Homo sapiens: one gene and its partners. The protein of the gene in region 3 binds, or shares a complex with, the protein of the main gene of each other region. Each region holds a gene or a part of one and is shown on either strand. Other genes may lie near its edges. A codon is read from its position in the direction of its gene.

Region 1 (3,745 bases), on a different chromosome or scaffold from region 3:
GGAGGGAATGAGTGAGTGAGGGAGGGAATTAATGCATGAGTGAGGGAGGGAATGAATGAATGAGGGAGGAAGGGAATGAGTGAGGGAGGGAATGAATGAGTGAGGGAGGGAATGAGTGAGGGAGGGAATGAATGAGGGAGGGAATGAATGAATGAGGGAGAGAGGGAGGGAATGAGGGAGGGAGGCAATGAGTGAGGGATGGAATAAATGAGTAAGGGAGGGAATGAGTGAGGGAGGGAGGGAATGAATGAATGAGGGAGGGAGTGAATGAATGAGTGAGGGAGGAAGTGAATGAGGGAGGAAGGGAATGAGTGAGGGATGGAATGAATAAGGGAGAGAATCAGTGAGGGAGGGAGGGAATGAATGAGTGAGGGAGGGAATGAGTGAGGGAGGCAGGGAATGAATGAGGGAGGGTGGGAATGAATGAGGGAGGGAATGAATGAATGAGGGAGGGAATGAATGAATGAGGGAGGGAGGGAATGAGGGAGGGAGGGAATGAATGAATGAGGGAGGGAATGAACGAATGAGGGAGGGAATGAATGAGGGAGGAATGAGTAAGTGAGGGAGGGAATGAGTTTGTGAGAGTGGGAATGAGTGAGGGAGGGAGGGAATGAATGAATGAGAGAGGAAATGAGTGAGGGAGGGAATGAGTGAGGGAAGGAATGAATGAGTGATGGAGGGAATGAATGAATCAGTGAGGGAGGGAATCAGTGAGGGAGGGAATGAGTGAGTGAGGGAGGGAGGGAATGAATGAGAGAGGGAATGAGTGAGGGAGGGAAGGAATGAATGAGGGTGGGAATGAATGAATGAGGGCGGGAATGAATGAATGAGGGCGGGAATGAGTGAGAGTGAGAATGAGTGAGTGAGGGAGGGAATGAATGAGTGAGGGAGGGAATGAGTGAGGGAGGGAATGAGTGAGTGAGGGAGGGAATGAGTGAGGGAGGGAATGAGTGAGTGAGGGAGGGAATGAGTGAGTGGGAATGAATGAGTAAGTGAGGGAGGGAATGAGTGAGTGAGGGTGGCAATGAATGAGTAAGTGAGGGAGGGAATGCGTGAGAGAGGGAAGGAATGATTGAGTGATGGAGGGATCGAATGAATGAGGGAGGGAGGGAATTAGTGAGGGAGGGAGGGAATTAGTGAGTGAGGGAGGGAATGACGGAGTAGGGGAGGGAATGAATGAATGAGTGAGGGAGGGAATGAATGAATGTGGTCACTCCCCGCGGTCCCCAAGCACCCGGACACCGTGACCTTGGCTGCGGCCCCGCCGTCGGCGAAATGCGGGCGGGGGGGCCGGGAGAGCCCGGGGGCCAGCACGGTCGCGCGTTGGCGAACGGACTGTCCCGCGCGCTCGCGGGTCTGGGGGCCTCCCGACCCGGTCCTGCTTGTTGCGTGGGCGGGAGGGGGGACCGGAAGCGCCCCTCCCCCACGGGCTCGCCCCGCCCCCGCCGCTCGCGGTCCCCCACGTCCCGCCCGCGCCCCGGCCCAGGGCCAGCCCCCGGTTTAGGGAGCATCCACACTTCTCCTCCCGTCGGTCATGCTCGCATTCGGCCTTTTGTACGGGGTCAGCTCATTGGGCGGATGAGAAGGTGTCCCCGCCTACCGCCCCGAACTGGCCAATTGCAAGGGGTTTCACAGGGCGCTGAACTCGCGGGAGCGTCACCGTCCTGCGACGCTTCAGAGGATCCTTAGGCCTCAGTGGTCTTTGACCCCCGGCCCCAGGACCTGACCCCAAGGAAACCTCCGGGACCTGTGGCTGGAGAGGTGACCGCCAGGCATCCGGGGAGCCTTTGGAGATCTCGGCTTCCTTTTTCCCCCGCTGCTTGCCGGCGTGTCCTCGGGTGGACGCGGGCAGCCCGAAGGGGAGTTTACAGACGCTCCCTCACATCGGGGACGCGGCTCCTTTAAGGGCGTAGGTGTCCAGGGCGCCGCCTGACTGGAAAGTCGCCCCCCGGCCGGGCTCCTGGGGCGGACCCGGGGCGCGGGCGCGCGGCGGCGGGGCGCGGGCAACGGGGAGCGCTCGGCGGCGCGGGAGGCGCTCGGGGCCGGGCGGCAGGAGCGGCGCGCGAGGCAGGCGTGCAGAGGGCAGCCCCGCGTTAGGCCCCGCCCCGCGCGCCCCGCCCGCGCCAGGGTCCTCGGAGCTGCTCTGGCTGCGCGCGGAGCGGGCTCCGGAGGGAAGTCCCGAGACAAAGGGAAGCGCCGCCGCCGCCGCCCCGCTCGGTCCTCCACCTGTCCGCTACGCTCGCCGGGGCTGCGGCCGCCCGAGGTGAGCGCGTGCGGGGGCCGGGCCGGGGCCGCGGGGCGGGGGTCGGGCCGAGGCCTCTACTCCTGTTGGGCCCGGGCCCCCGACTGCCCCGCGCCCCGCCCCGCCGAGCCGGGCCCCGCGCCGCGGCCGAGCTTTCCGGGGAGCCCGAGAGGCCCCGCGCTCGGCGCCGGCTCGGTCCGCGCTGCTGGCGCCGCTGGGCTGCGGCCCGAGCGGCCGGGCCGCCGCAGGCCTTCGGGGCCGGGGCTCCCCCACTTCGCCCCCGAGGTGCGCCTGGCGCGGGGCCGGGGCAGCCACCTGCAGCCGGGGCCCCGCGAGGCCGCGCCTTCCTCCTGCGCGGGGAGCGGCTTCCGGGGTCACGGTCGCCCCGCGGACGGATAGGATGGGCCGCGGGGGGAGAGTCTTGGATTGCAACATCGCTGGCTCGCGGGGGTGGGGGCCGGCGAGCGGGCTTGTTTTCGGTGCCTTAAAACCAAAACAAGTGTAAGTTTTCTTGTGCCTCTGAAGATGCTCCGCTGGCGCTTGCTGGGGCCCTGAACGTGAGCGCCTCGCTGGAGGGGGAGTTTTATTCTGTTTTGGACATCTCTTTTTATCGGTTGAATAGTAGTTGGTTCTGGTAGTTAACGTGCGTAGGAGGAATGTAAGGGAATGATTAGTTGGGCTTGTGATCGTGGCCTGTAGTCACGCTTGAATCGCAGAATGAAGTGGTTTTGTTTGTATAATTGGAAGTTACGCTTAGTTTCTCTGTTTGCAAAGTGCCTGTCTTTGGGGAGTTCGGTTTGTTTCCTTTTACAGGACCTACCCCAAGTGTTTCTTGCTCTTCAAGAAACGTTGCCTTTGGGTAGAGAACCTATGCAACGGAAGACGGGACGGATCCTCAGTTTGCCCTGATTGCTCATTCAGAGAGGTCCGTTCCCTAGGCCACTGGGTGATTGCTGGTGTGCGCTTGTATGGTGTCTCAGGGTTTGGGATCTTGCTTCAGAAACATTCTCGGGGCCTGGGGCAGATCAGGTGCGGCCAGGTAAGCGTCTCCCGACTGCAGGTGCTTGGGTCTTGCAGAAGGGAATACCTCCCCAAGCCTGGGAGAGTTTGCATTTGGGTGCAGGAGGGCCTTTAAAGGCTTCTTGTGCCAGCCTGTCGTGGCGACCACCCGTTGTGGAGATCAGTGCGGTGGAGTTGTGGGAGGTGAGTGCTTTGCTCACCCTCAGCCAGGAAGTTGCTCTGAAGTCGGTGCTGTCAACCAGCAGAGCAAGGCGGTGATCCGAGAAGCTAAAGCTCAGCCGGTTGCGGGCGCCCAGCAGGAGGACAGAAGGCAGACTTTCGGGCCGCTCCTGGAGTGCCCGGCCCTGTCCCCGTTTCTGCAGTGTCTGGGCCTTGCCTGGCTCTAATAGATGAGGGTTGTTTTTGTCTTTGCATCATAAAAGTTTCTTGCTCTGAAGCGTTTAGTAACTACTAGCCGTTCACTAAGTGCCTATCTGTGAATTT
Region 2 (3,745 bases), on a different chromosome or scaffold from region 3:
CTCTTGGGCTCAAGCAACCCCTCCTGCCTCAGCCTCCCAAAGTCTGGGATTATAGGCATGAGCCACCACACCTGGCCTTATAAATGCATTTTTCTGCAATAAACCTGTACTATCTTGTAAACAAAACTAAATAAATATAAATAACCCTTATGCATACTAAGACTCTTTCCTGTTAAAAATGAAAGCTCCTCGGCCAGGTGCGGTGGCTCCCGCCTATAATCCCAGCACTTTGGGAGGCTGAGGTGGCGGATCACGAGGTCAGGAGTTCAAGACGAGCCTGACCAACATGGTAAAACCCCATTTCTACTGAAAATACAAAAATTAGCCAGGTATGGTGGTGGCACGTGCCTGTAATCCCAGCTACTCAGGAGGCTGATGCAGGAGAATTGCTTGAACCCAGGAGGCGGAGGCTGCAGTGAGCCGAGATCGTGCCATTGCACTCCAGCCTGGGAAACAGAGCAAGACTCCATCTCAAAAACATACAAACAAACAAAAAAAAGCTCCTCAAGTACAAGGACTTCGTCCTGTAGCCTTCTAAAAGTTGTTCAACTCAAGAACTAAAAAGGAGGCCAGGTGCGGCATCTCACCCATCATTCTGAGAGGCTGAGGTGGGAGGACTGCTTAAAGCCAGGAGCTCAAGACTAGCTTGGGCAAAAAAACAAGACTCTTGTCTCTACAAAAAAATTAAAATAAATTAAAAAAAATTAGCCAGGCATAGTGGTGCATGTCTGTAGTCCCAGCTACCTGGGAGGCTAAAGTGAAAGGATCACTTGTGCCCAGGAGGTGGAGGTTACAGTGAGCTATGGTTGTGCCACTGCATGCCAGCTTGGGTGGCAGAATGAGACCCTGTCTCTAAAAATAAAAATTTAAAAAAAAAAAAGAAAAAGAAAAAGAAAAAAAGGCCAGGCATGGTGGCTCACACCTGTAATACCAACACTTTGAAAAACTGAGGCAGGAGAACCACTTGAGGCCAGGCGTTGGATACCAACCAGGGCAACATAGCAAGACTCCATCTTTCCAAATATATAAATAAATAAAATTAGGCAAGCATGGTGGACCATGCCTGTAGTCCTAGTCACTCAGGAGGCTGAGGCAGGAGGATCACCTGAGTCCAGGACTTCCAGGCTGCAATGAGCTATGATCACACCAGTTCACTCCAGCCTGGGCAACAGAGCGAGACCTGGTCTGTAATTTTAAAAAATAGTAAAATAAAATAAACATAAAATTTTTTAAAGAATAAATAAATAAAAAGAACTAAAAGGGTTGGGTGAAGGATGGGACATTAAAAAAAAAACTAAAAAGAGACTCTGCAGAGTATGCTTATAATATATACTATTGGCCTCTATACACAGGGCAGAAAAAGGCAGCATTATTTTTAAAAAATGGCCTTTATCCAAGTCCAACAATTAACCATTAACCCTCTCTACTCACCACCAGGCTCCAATGTACCTTCCGATGAATAGGCACCAGAATAATTTCTTGTTCAAAGAGATTTACCCCTTTGGTCCATCGTTTCACTGCTTGGTAACCCCCAGACTTTAATTTAGGATAGAAGAAAGTACTGAATACATGAAGTGCTGGATAGCCTTGCTTTTTATTTCTTTCCACCAGAAGATTCATGTAAAAATTAATGACCTACAAAATACCAAGGGAGCAAAAGCTGGAACATGGCAAACATATTATCAAAACTAAATTTCTACCTGAATAAGGATGAATTCGAAGGTAAGGTACTAAAGAAGAGGATAAAAAGACTGTCTATAGTAGAAGACAGGGAAAAAAGTGATCAGTGCAAAATGGGACACATGAAAATGAAATGAAACTGTACTTTTAAGGCATGTGAGTAACACTTAACAGCCAGAAGAAGGAATCCAGGAAGAAAGTCTGTGCAATAATGGAAAGATCTACATAACTGTATCACACCAAAAATACGCAGAAATATTAACAGTAAGTGAATTTTACTACATATAAATTAGACTTCAATTTTAAAATATTAACTTGAAGGACATACACCAAAATAATATTTTATTTATCTCTGAGTGGTGATACTTTTTTTTTGAGACGGAGTCTTGCCCTGTCGCCCAGGCTGGAGTCCACTGGCGTGATCTCGGCTCACTGCAAGCTCTGCCTCCCGGGTTCACACCATTCTCCTGCCTCAGCCTCCCGAGTAGCTGGGACTACAGGTACCCGCCACCATGCCTGGCTAATTTTTTTGTATTTTTAGTAGAGACGGGGTTTCACCGTGTTAGTCAGGGTGGTCTCGGTCTCCTGACCTCGTGATCCGCCCGCCTCAGCCTTCCAAAGTGCTGGGATTACAGGCGTGAGCCACCGCGCCCGGCCGAGTGGTGGTACTTTTGAACAGTAATATTTTTTACTTTTCCTGTATTTTCCAAATATTCTACGATAAACAAATTACATTTATAATGTAAAACAAAACATTCCTGTTTTCAAAGAATGTGTTTATAAGTAACTAGTCATAGGGGACTTCCCTCAAAGAGAGAACATGCAGGGGCTAAGCAGTTCGGGGAAGAACCCACCAGAAAATTGTCAAAGAACTTAAGAGTTAGCTTTTGCTAAATGTATTAAGGATACAAGATGACAAGTTAGGCAAAATTTTTCAGCTATCACTCAAAGAAAAATACACATAGTATATAGTGATCAATATATCCCTTTATTACTCAAAAAATAAAACAGGCCAGGCACGGTGGCTCACGCCTGTAATCCCAGCACTTTGGGAGGCCAAGGCGGGCGGATCACCTGAGGTCCAGAGTTTGAGACCAACCTGACCAACATGGAGAAACCCTGTCTCTACTAAAAATACAAAATTAGCCGGGCATGGTGGCGCATGCCTGTAATCCCAGCTACTTGGGAGGCTGAGGTAGGAGAATTGCTTGAACCCAGGAGGTGGAGGTTGCGCTGAGCCAAGATTGCGCCATTGCACTCCAGCCTGGACAACAAGAGCAAAACTCTGTCTCAAAAACAAAACCAAAAAACAAAAACAAAAAAATAGCTACTATAAGAATTCACCTAAAATACAGTATCACTTGCTGCTTCCTCCCGTTTATCAGCTGTACCCAGGGTTTATTGAAGACCAGTAAATGAAGTGGTGGATGCAATAAAATACAGACGCAGAAAAGGGAAACATCGCTAATCAAAGGCAGAAAATCAGAACTAACCATCTTTTTAAGATTTAAAATGTTTTTGTTTTAATTATAACTAAGAGTTGCATTACCAACCCATTATAACTGGGTAGGAGTCACTTTGATTATAGATAATAAATAAATAAACTTAATGATAGCCAAAAGGGGGAGGGAATACAACTTACTTCATCATTGAGCCAGTGATAGTTCTTTAATGTCTGAATATCTCCTCGAGTAATTCGCAATTTGAAAGCACTACTTAGGATTTCATCCTGTGGGCCATGGCCTAGGGCATTACTGATTTCCTTTTCCATGTCCTGAATTAGAAAGTTCAGAAGTTGCTATTTTAATATAGAACCATTCATTATCAGTTATTGAAAACTCCGAGACTGAAAAAAGTTTTTCATCTCGGCAACACCTGACTCTTGAGAAAAATATACTATCAAAGACCTACTAAACTACAGTAGGAAAACATTTTTTTCTTATTTTTAGTGATAGAGATGGGGCCTCATTATATTGCCCAAGTTGGTTGCAAACTCCTGGGCTCAAGCAATACCTGCCTTGGCCTCCCAAAGTGCTGAGATTATAGGCATGAGCCACTGCACCAG
Region 3 (3,745 bases):
TTTATTGGGAATATATTTTTTTCTCTGAATCTGTTATGAACGTGTTGGTTGGCTAGGTTCAGTAATAAATATGTGAGACCTTTCATTTTTTAAAAAAAAAATCATCCTTAACAATCCCAGTGTCCTGGAAGAAGTAAATGATTCAACTTTGGATATAGTTACCAGGTCTATTGCTAACAGAAGTAAAGATGAAGAAGGTATGCAAAAATATCATAAGAGAAAAACTATTCCATGGCAACCAGCCCTGCCTCAATAACAAAACAACATCAAGAGGACTGAAAGAGGAGGAGGAAGGTACCTGCTGTTTCATGTTTTTGAGGCGACCTTCCAATTCTAGGGCCTAGAATCATGCTGTGAACATTGTGACATTTAATAAACATTTGTTGAATGAATCTGGCCACTCTCCTTTAAAAAATTTTTTACTAATTATCCACTCAATGTGCTAAGCATTACAGGAAAAAGAGGATAAATAAAGCCTGATGTAATGGAGAAAAGACACTTAGAATGTAAATAACTGGCAACGCGGTGGCTCACACCTGTAATCCCAGCACTCTGGGAGGCCGAGGCAGGTGGATGACTTGAAGTCAGGAGTTCAAGACCAACCTGGCCAACATGGGGAAAGCCCATCACTACTAAAAATATAAAAACTAGCCAGGCGTGGTGACACACATCTGTAATCCCAGCTACTCGAGGCGCTGAGGCAGGAGAATCACTTGAACCAGGAGGCAGAGGTTGCAGTGAGCCGAGATCATGCCACTGCACTCCAGCCTGGGCCACAGAGCAAGACTCCATCTCAAAAAAAAAAAAAAAAAAGGAACGTAAATAACTGTAACATTACATGTAAAAATTATGAAAGAGATACCCTAACTGCCTTCGGGACTAAAGGATGTCATGAGTTGACAACTACTTAATAGTTTTTAAATCTGAACTACTAAATCTTAATGAGTAATCATAACATTCATATTCAATTTTTAAACTACTAGTAAAGTTTGTTTAGATAATGCTACAATCTATACATTTGTAACATCCACTAGCAGGACCTCATGTCTATCAGAGCGGACACAGTATTCTTCTTCTCCTAGGGCATGAAATGCTTAACTACATACTCAAGTAATAACTACAGTTTAACATATCTATTCTATGATATAAATAGTAGTACACACAATTATGAATTTTAATACACAACCAGTTCATCATATTCTCCTGCTATCTCAAGCAAAGAATTTCTAAAATCAGTAAAAATCAATAGCAGGGAGCTATATAGAACACTGCAGGGAATAATACTATCATGGCAGCAAAAATACAATTAATGTAGATTAAAGATAACTGCAAATTCTTTGTTACTCTCCCATTGAGAAACAGTGTCTAAATAAATGCCTTTCCCTTGAATCTGGCTGACCTTAGTGATTTGAGTGGGCAACAGAATTACAGACGTGACTTCCAAGGCTAGGTTGTAGGAGACTTGCTATTTCCACCCAGGTTCTCTTGGAACACCTATTCTCTCTGTGATCCCTGAGCCGTAAGTCTGAATACCCTGGGGTCTCCATGCTGACATCACATGATGAAACCACTAAGAAAGGCTCTGAGACTATATGGAGACACTTGCCCCATCCAGTCTCATCTCACCTGACAACTAGCTGTTCCAGCCCCCAGCCACTTGAGTCATCTCAGCTGAGGCCCCACACACCAAGAAGCAGAGGTGAGTCTAATCCACAGAGCCCTGTCCAAATTGCAGATTTATAAACAAAATAAATGGCTGTTGTTTTAAGTCACAAAATTTTGAGGTAATGTATCAGATAATCAGAATTACACAATGCTTCCAAATCCTTGACTAAAGATAAAAGGAAATCATTCAATCTCTCTTTGGGGGTGTTAATACAGATTCAGTTAGAGTGGAACAGTCATCCAATTGCTACAATTAACAGACTTGAATTGAAGAGCTGACCAAGCTACCTTTAATGATTTTGGTATAAAAAAGAAACACTATAAACTCAAATATCAGAAAGGAGGAAGGGGAAAATATTTGTACAAATTACCCTTATCCTTTTGATATTAAGCTTCGGGTTCTGTACGAGCACTTTGTTTTGCTACAAGGTGAGACTGGGCTAAAGGAAAGCACCCAATCAGATTTCTGTTACTGGTTAAAGGATGGTCCTTAACCATTTTGAGGAATCACGTACCCCTGATGAGACTATGGGTCCTTTCTCCTATTTAAAAAAAATATATATATATGGCTGGGCTCACGTCTGTAAACCCAGCACTTTGGGAGGCCAAGACGGGCAGATCACCTGAGGTCAGGAGTTCGAGACCAGCCTGATGAAACCCCATCTCTACAAAAAATACAAAAATTAGCCAGGTATGGTGTCATGTGTCTATAATCCCAGCTACTAGGGAGGCTGAGGCAGGAGAATCACTTGAACCCAGGAGGCAGAGGTTGCAGTAACCGAGATCACACCACACTGTACTCCAGCCTGGGCAATTGAGCAATGCTCTATCTTAAAAAAAAAAAAATACGTATGCACAAATACTCACAAAACACTCCATACAATGTAAGCGAACTTTCAGTCTTTATGGTCTATGGGCCTTAGGTTTAGAACTTATTTTAAAGGATTATTTAATAATGGTACACAAATCTACTAGATGATGTTGGAATTGTTAAAATTATAAAGAAGTGGGTTTTTTTGTGTTTTTTTTTTTTTTGCCAGGCACGGCACCTCACGCCTGTAATCCCAGCACTTTGGGAGGCCGAGGCGGGCGGATCACAAGGTCAGGAGTTCGAGACAGCCTGGCCAATATGGTGAAACCCTGTCTCTACCAAAAATACAAAAAAATTAGCTGGGCATGGTGGCTAATTTTTTGTGACTCCGTCTCAAAAAAAAAAAAAAAAAAAAGTTTTTTGTTTTTTTTCCTTTTCTTTTTTTTTTTTTTTTTTTTTTGGGACAGAGTCTTGCTCTGTCGCCCAGGCTGGAATGCAGTGGCATGATCTCCGCTCACTGCAACCTCCACCTCCCAAGCTCAAGCGATCCTCTCGCCTCAGACTCCCAAGTAGCTGGGATTACAGGCATGAGCCACCAGGCCCAGCTAATTTTTGTATTTTTAGTAAAGACGTGCTTTCCTCATGTTGGCCAAGCTGGTCTCAAAGTCCTGGCCTCAAGTGATCCCAAAGTGGTGGGATTACAGGCGTAAGCCACCCTACTCAGCCATTAAGAAGTGTTTCACTCAAATTCCAAAAACAATCATTTTTTCATTAATCAATGGAGGACCCAGCAATTGAAGTCTTGTGTGTATTTAATGTCCACCGATTTTAACCTTGTTATTACTCAATTTCACTATTTTAACACCAGACAATAACCTTCTGAGAGCTGCCTCAGAAAACACATCACTCTAAAATAACTTGATTCAAATTAAGGTTGTCTTCTTAGGACAGTGGTTTAGTCTCATGCTGATATTAAACAGTACAGGATTTGGAGATTCTTGTTCTCACTTATAAACCTCTTAAGATTAAGGGTTCAGCTTTATAACTCTTTTAAGTCTTTAGCACTCAACACTGAACTTGTACTGGGTCTTCTTTGTTTTGAGTCAGGGTCTCTATCGCCCAGGCTGAAGTACAGTGGCATGATCTTGGCTTGCTGCAACCTCGACCTCGCAGGCTCAGGTGATCCTCCCATATCAACCTCCTGAGTAGCTGGGACTACAGGTACAGGCCATCATGCCTGGCTAATTTTATTTTTTGTAGAGACGACGT

Evidence for each region.
Region 1: the proteins of SUMO1 (region 3) and UBE2I are in contact, whole or in part, in a cryo-EM structure (PDB 9B62), measured with the Homo sapiens proteins. Residues at the interface, in NP_001005781.1 of Homo sapiens: Gln29, Asp30, Ser31, Gln55, Gly56, Val57, Arg63, Tyr91, Gln92, Glu93, Thr95, Gly96, Gly97; in NP_003336.1 of Homo sapiens: Asp19, Lys48, Asn85, Cys93, Leu94, Ser95, Arg104, Lys110, Gln111, Leu114, Gly115, Glu118, Leu119, Glu122, Asn124, Asp127, Pro128, Ala129.
Region 2: the proteins of SUMO1 (region 3) and SENP2 are in contact, whole or in part, in a crystal structure (PDB 1TGZ), measured with the Homo sapiens proteins. Residues at the interface, in NP_001005781.1 of Homo sapiens: Asn60, Arg63, Leu65, Glu67, Gly68, Gln69, Arg70, Ala72, His75, Glu89, Tyr91, Gln92, Glu93, Gln94, Thr95, Gly96, Gly97; in NP_067640.2 of Homo sapiens: Asp386 (codon at 3,409), Lys394 (codon at 3,385), Leu395 (codon at 3,382), Arg396 (codon at 3,379), Trp410 (codon at 3,337), Leu411 (codon at 3,334), Asn412 (codon at 3,331), Asp413 (codon at 3,328), Glu414 (codon at 3,325), Thr440 (codon at 1,560), Phe441 (codon at 1,557), Pro444 (codon at 1,548), Lys445 (codon at 1,545), Arg456 (codon at 1,512), Trp457 (codon at 1,509), His474 (codon at 1,458), Val477 (codon at 1,449), His478 (codon at 1,446), Trp479 (codon at 1,443), Met497, Gln542, Gly545, Ser546, Asp547, Cys548, Gly549.

The regions. Positions count from the first base shown.
Region 1 is NC_000016.10:1,307,511-1,311,255, forward strand, and holds the start of UBE2I (SUMO-conjugating enzyme UBC9), read left to right. Parts: upstream 1-2,125; 5' UTR 2,126-2,263; intron 2,264-3,745. UniProt on the Homo sapiens protein: Accepts the ubiquitin-like proteins SUMO1, SUMO2, SUMO3, SUMO4 and SUMO1P1/SUMO5 from the UBLE1A-UBLE1B E1 complex and catalyzes their covalent attachment to other proteins with the help of an E3 ligase such as RANBP2, CBX4 and ZNF451.
Region 2 is NC_000003.12:185,617,189-185,620,933, reverse strand, and holds part of SENP2 (sentrin-specific protease 2), read right to left. Parts: intron 3,455-3,745; coding exon 3,323-3,454; intron 1,636-3,322; coding exon 1,432-1,635; intron 1-1,431. UniProt on the Homo sapiens protein: Protease that catalyzes two essential functions in the SUMO pathway.
Region 3 is NC_000002.12:202,231,952-202,235,696, forward strand, and holds part of SUMO1 (small ubiquitin-related modifier 1 isoform a precursor), read right to left. Parts: intron 94-3,745; exon of another isoform or gene 1-93. UniProt on the Homo sapiens protein: Ubiquitin-like protein that can be covalently attached to proteins as a monomer or a lysine-linked polymer.